2 separate regions of the Homo sapiens genome follow, and region 2 is linked to region 1. The links come from fine-mapping of genetic effects on gene expression. A gene starts in region 1. The other region holds a variant in brackets. All regions are shown on one strand. Distances are from middle to middle.

Evidence for each region. PIP is the estimated chance that this variant, and not a neighbour inherited with it, causes the effect.
Region 2: its variant is fine-mapped to the expression of SART3 in whole blood (INTERVAL, PIP above 0.99).

The regions. Positions count from the first base shown.
Region 1 is chr12:108,559,905-108,562,404 of GRCh38, reverse strand. It overlaps SART3 (spliceosome associated factor 3, U4/U6 recycling protein), which reads left to right and starts at 1,232. Exons shown (of 19, transcript NM_014706.4): 1 at 1,232-1,562. The coding sequence starts at 1,251. It also overlaps a transcript of ISCU not described here. RefSeq lists enhancers at 70-129, 984-1,083, 1,094-1,153.
Region 2 is chr12:108,526,944-108,529,961 of GRCh38, reverse strand. All of the region lies in intron 15 of SART3 (spliceosome associated factor 3, U4/U6 recycling protein), which reads left to right. Among named protein-coding and RNA genes, the nearest start is that of FICD, 13 kb to the right of the region's middle. The variant C/A (reference allele first, on the strand shown) is at 1,454.

The DNA of each region.
Region 1 (2,500 bases):
CTTGTCCTGGGTGCTGGATTCTGGTTGAGACAGGACCTCAGGGCTTCTGCAGTGTGGGGCTCAAGTTCGCTTTCACAAATCCCGCTGCGGGAATGCGGCGCAGAGGAGCACCGAGTCCACTTTTCCTAACCCTATTTTGCAGCTAAGGAAGCCGAGATTCAGGGCAGTTTAGTAAGTCCGTCCAAGGTCGCTAAGGACTTATGTTCAATTAGAATTCGAACTTGGGTAATCCTGGGTTAGAATCCTGGTTCGGTTCCTTCCTGGCTGTGTGTCCCTAGACGAATGGTACCGGCTCGCTGAGTCTGAATCTTCCCTTTTGTATTAATTCGAGGACAATTGCTTCATCATGAAGCCAGCATCTGTGTCGAGTACCTACTATGTGTCAAGGCGCTCTACTAGACCCGGGGATCCAACGGAAAGCAAAACAGACATAATTCCTGCCCATTAAGCCTGCTAATGAGGGAGCAAGGTAGAGATAGAGACACACACCAATACTTTCCTACCTCAAAAATGGGAAGCTTAAGAAGGAAACGAATACCATGTCCTGATTGAAAAAAAATGAATATGTCTATTTTTCTCTCTAAAACAACAGCAAACTCAATTTATATGTCAGTGCCTAGCAATTAAGAATTTCTAAAGAAATGCGTATTAATGTAATTTACTGTTGGTTTGCAGTATGTGATCTTATAAAACCGGAAAACTCACGTGTATTTAACGTCTACTAGGTACCAGACGTTTACATAAAGGGGAGGAATCTGGGAAATGGATTTTTCTCTTGAATGGTGAAATCGATCCTTCCCCGAGGACCTGCAGTTTTCTTTGCGTTTGAGGCGCAGTTGCTGGGGAGAGTAAACCCAAGCGCCAGGTCACACTAGGCGATAAGTAAGGCATTTAATCGAAGAATCACTTTGACCTTCTCAAGATGGCGCCAAATTCTTCACTACAGACATCACTCTCGCTCCATGACTTCCTCTATGGCTTCCACTTCCTGCCCAAAGACCCAACTTCTGTCCGAAGTTGTGACGGAACGCATGCCATTATAATGAGTTTTTATATCTGGTGGGAGCTTTTACAGGGTATAAAATAATGTGAATTTAGTGTATGTGGAGATTTTCCTGTTATCTAAGTTCCCAGTTTCTCTTTCAATGGCAAGAAAACGGGTTTTTGATAAGGCGCGCGCCGCGGGCAGCTTCTGCCTCAGCGGGTCTTCGGCGGCCGCGGGAAGACCCGAGAGTCATTAGAAGCGCAAGATGGCGACTGCGGCCGAAACCTCGGCTTCAGAACCCGAGGCTGAGTCCAAGGCTGGGCCCAAGGCTGACGGAGAGGAGGATGAGGTTAAGGCGGCTAGGACAAGGAGGAAGGTGTTATCGCGGGCTGTGGCCGCTGCGACATACAAGACCATGGGGCCAGCGTGGGATCAGCAGGAGGAAGGCGTGAGCGAGAGCGATGGGGATGAGTACGCCATGGCTTCCTCCGCGGAGAGCTCCCCCGGGGAGTACGAGTGGGAATATGACGAAGAGGAGGAGAAAAACCAGCTGGAGATTGAGAGACTGGAGGAGCAGGTGGGCCCGGGGGTGGGCAGCGGGCATCTTCCAGTCTTTCAGGTCCTCGGGTCCCCATGTCCTGGCCCGCCTCCCTAGTCCTCGGCGGCGATAAAGCCGCCAAGGCTGCAAACCCGCTTTTCGTGACAGTAGCTCCTGTCGGATTTGAGTGCTTACTGCCTGCCCATTGCCTTGCAAACGTTATCTCATTGAATCCTCGCCACGACCCTGTGAAGGAAGCCCTGTTATCTATCCCCATTTTACTGGAGGAAACTGAGGCTCGTGGAGGAAAGTTTCTTGCTCAAGATAACACTTCCTGCAAGTCAGGCCTTGTACTTTGATCCCATTCCAGAACTCCCACTCTTAACCACACGTCCAACAGTAGAAATAAACTCATTCGCAAGAGAGTGTTATTTTGTTATGTAGGAATGACGGCGATGATGAAACTTGTGGTAAGAAAAATATTGACCGCGATGGTGATAATAGAAATGGAAAGGTTTCTGGTTCTGGAGGTTAAGGCCTCAGTTCTAGCTGTTCAACTCTTGTATGTGCTTGTAAGAATTTCTTAATTTCTCTCACCCTCTCGACTTCCTTATCTGCAGATTGGGAGCAACAATTTCTGCATAATATAATTGTTGTAACAGTAACTATAGCTCAGTGCCTAGCATCTAGTCATAACATGGTCTCTCACTTGTAACCTTATGAGGTGGTGATATCTACTGTATAATCCAGGATCTCAGCAGGAAATAGGTGGCACATTTAAATTAGGATGATCTGAGAGAAACTCAATAAAGGTGTGGGTAGGGAAATCGGGAGTGAAGGTTTAGTATCCCATAGCTGGTAACTCCAGAACCTGGTGTCCATCTTTGGGCCGGAAGGGGTGAAGGGTGTGATCTGAATTGTGTGGAGAGGGCACCTGAGACCTGCTGATAACTTTGTTCAAGGGAAGCAGCCCCAGT
Region 2 (3,018 bases), 33 kb after region 1:
ATCAGAGCCGGGGTTAGCAATGAGCTATGGGTTCCCATTTATCCTGATAATGTCCTTTGTAGTGAAAGGATCCGGTTCAGGATGCACTATTGTGTTTAGTTGTCCTGTCTCCTGGATCTCCTTGAGTCTGGAGCACTCCTCAGCTTTTTTTTTTTACTCTGATGACCTGCAGTCTTGTAAGGGGGCAGGCCAGTTGCTGTGTTGTGCCCCTCAGCCTGGGTGTGTCTGATGCTCCCTAAGCATTGGATTCCACTCATGCATCTCGGGCAGGAATAGTGCACAAGTGCTCCTGTGGCCTGCCCATTGAGTCCCATCAGGTGGACTGTGATTCGCTTTGTTCCATCACTGGTGATGACCCTTTTGAGAATTATTTATGCTGATTCTCTACTTATCCCAGGTTTGGCTAGCAAGAGTTCCTTCACACAGGCTTCTATGTCCCTTTGACCTGTCCCCTTGTTCTTTGATCATTTCCTTACCTTCTAGCACACAATACCCAAGGGTCATCTTATACTTTCCATAACTCAGCCCTGGAATCCATCATTTCTCCAAGGTTCCTTTGAGTGATGAGTGGTATTTAGAAGGTGCTAGTTGTGCTCACTGCTGTTGGTTATTGTTCTGAGGCCTGAGTGGTCGAGGGTAGGGAGTGTGTGTGTGTGTGCGTGTGCGTGTGCATGTGTACACATATTTATGACCATATTTACTTGTGTAACTATTTGTATATACTGAAAGTCATGATTTCACACCAATACCTCCAGTTCCGGTCTAACACCACAGGGTTCCCCTTCACACTTGCAATGCCCTTCTCTCTCTTTTTAAAATTTATTTATTCATTTATTTTTGAGACAGAGTCTCGCTTTGTTGCCCAGGCTGGAGTGCAGTGGGGTGATCTTGGCTCACTTCAACCTCCGCTTCCCGGGTTCAAGTGATTCTTGTGCCTCAGCCTCTCAAGTAGCTGGGATTACAGGCATGCACCATCATACCTGGCTAATTTTTTGTATTTTTAGTAGAGATCAGGTTTCGCCATGTTGGCCAGGCTGGTCTTGAACTTGTGGCCTCAAGTGATCTGTCTGCCTCGGCCTCCCAAAGTGCTGGGATTACAGGTGTGAGCCACTGTGCCCAGCTGTGTCACGCCCTTCTCTGACCTTGAGAAACTTGGCTCCCTCTATTCTCAGCATCCTCAGTTACTCCACCCGGCCCCTGTAGGTATGTAATCAACTTCCTGTGCCTGCCTCCCCTTCTCATATGTGCCATCCCCACCCTGTTTGGTCTCCCACACCCGGGGCCAGGCACGGCCCTGCATGGACACCCTTGCTTCTTTCACTCAGGCTTCCAGATCTAGGCTGCTGGGTCCCTGTCACTGCCCCATGCCTGCCTGTCTTCTTCCTTCCATTCAGGCTCTAGCATCCCGCACCACTGCTGCAGCCCCAACCCTGCACAGACCTGCCAGGCTTGG[C/A]CCTACTTTTTTTTTTTTTTTTTTTTGAGAGGGAGTCTCGCTCTGTCGCCCAGGCTGGAGTGCAGTTGCGTGATCTCGGCTCACTGCAACCTCCGCCTCCTGGGTTCAAGTGATTCTCTTCCTTCAGCCTTCCAAGTAGCTGGGATTACACTTTGCCAGCCACCATGCCCAGCTAATTTTTGTATTTTAGTAGAGACGGGGTTTCACCATGTTAGCCAGGCTGGTCTTGAACTCCTGACCTCAAGTGATCCTCCCGCCTTGGCCTCCCAAAGTGCTGTTATTACAGGCATGAGACACTGCACCTGGCCTTGGCCCTGCTTTTAATGGTTCTGACTTAGTGGAATTTTCCAGCAGTGTTTCTTTCACCCTTGTAATTTCAGGGACGGGCAGCTCTGGGTCATATTTATTTCAGAGAGTCAGTCAAGGTAAAGAATTGTCTCTGGTGGCTGGGCGCGGTAGCTCATGCCTGTAATCCCAGCACTCTGGGAGGCTGAGGTGGGCGGATCACCTGAGGTCAGGGGTCAAGATCAACCTGGCCAACATGGTGAAAACCTGCCTCTACTAAAAATACAAAAATTAGTTGGCTGTGGTGGCGGGTGCCTGTTTTCCCAGCTACTCGGGAGGCTGAGACAGGAGAATTACTTGAGCCCGGGAGGCAGAGGTTGCAATGAGTAGAGATCATGCCGTTGCACTCCAGCCTGGGAGAGAGAGCAAGACACTGTCTCAAAAACAAAACAAAACAAAAAAAAGAATTGTCTCTGGACTTGAAAGGACTCTGTATACTTTCTTAATACAGATGTGTGAGCCAGAGAGAACTGGGAATGGAGTCATCCATCGTTGAGTTGACCTTGCTTGCACACCTTGTTTGGGCTTTCCTAAATGACTGAGGATGGCTCATTGCTCCACTGGCCTCCCAGTTTGGCAGAATAAGGCAAATGTGATGTGTGACCGCAGTGGTGTGTGATCAGGGCATGGCGTGTGATCAGGACTGTGGGAGATGGCATTGTTAATACTGGTGGAGGCCAAAGAAGGCACTAGTGGGTCAACTTCGTACCAGGAAGACTGTGGGGGAAGAGATGCGGCATCCAGGGGGAAGACCGAGTGACTGTGGCAGCGAGAAGGGAAGGTCTGAGCTACACAGGGAGGAGCCAATGTTAGTACAGCCTGAAGGCACAGCACAGCCTGGCATTTTCTGTGAGCAGCAGATAATTGGGTTTGAACTCAGATGCATTAGAGAGGGGTGGGGCAGTGGTCGAGGAGGCTGGAGTGGTAGGTGGGCCAGTCAGCTGGACCCAGCCCAGGGACACTCTTGAATACAGTAGCAGTGTGCAGGGCTTACGTTGCATTGGAAAGGCAGCGGGTGAACTGATGGGGAGGTCTGTTTGCCGGAGGCTGATGTCTGTTGAGCTTCAGTACTGGCCCTCTGGAGGCAGTGGTGAGGACAGACTGCAGTAGAAGATTGTGGTTAAGCTCTCTTAAGGACACAAGGCCATATTGAAAGTGTTTTAGAAACCACAGATCCTTTGTAGTGCTTTCCAAAATGTGCTCCCTGGGGCACGGGTATC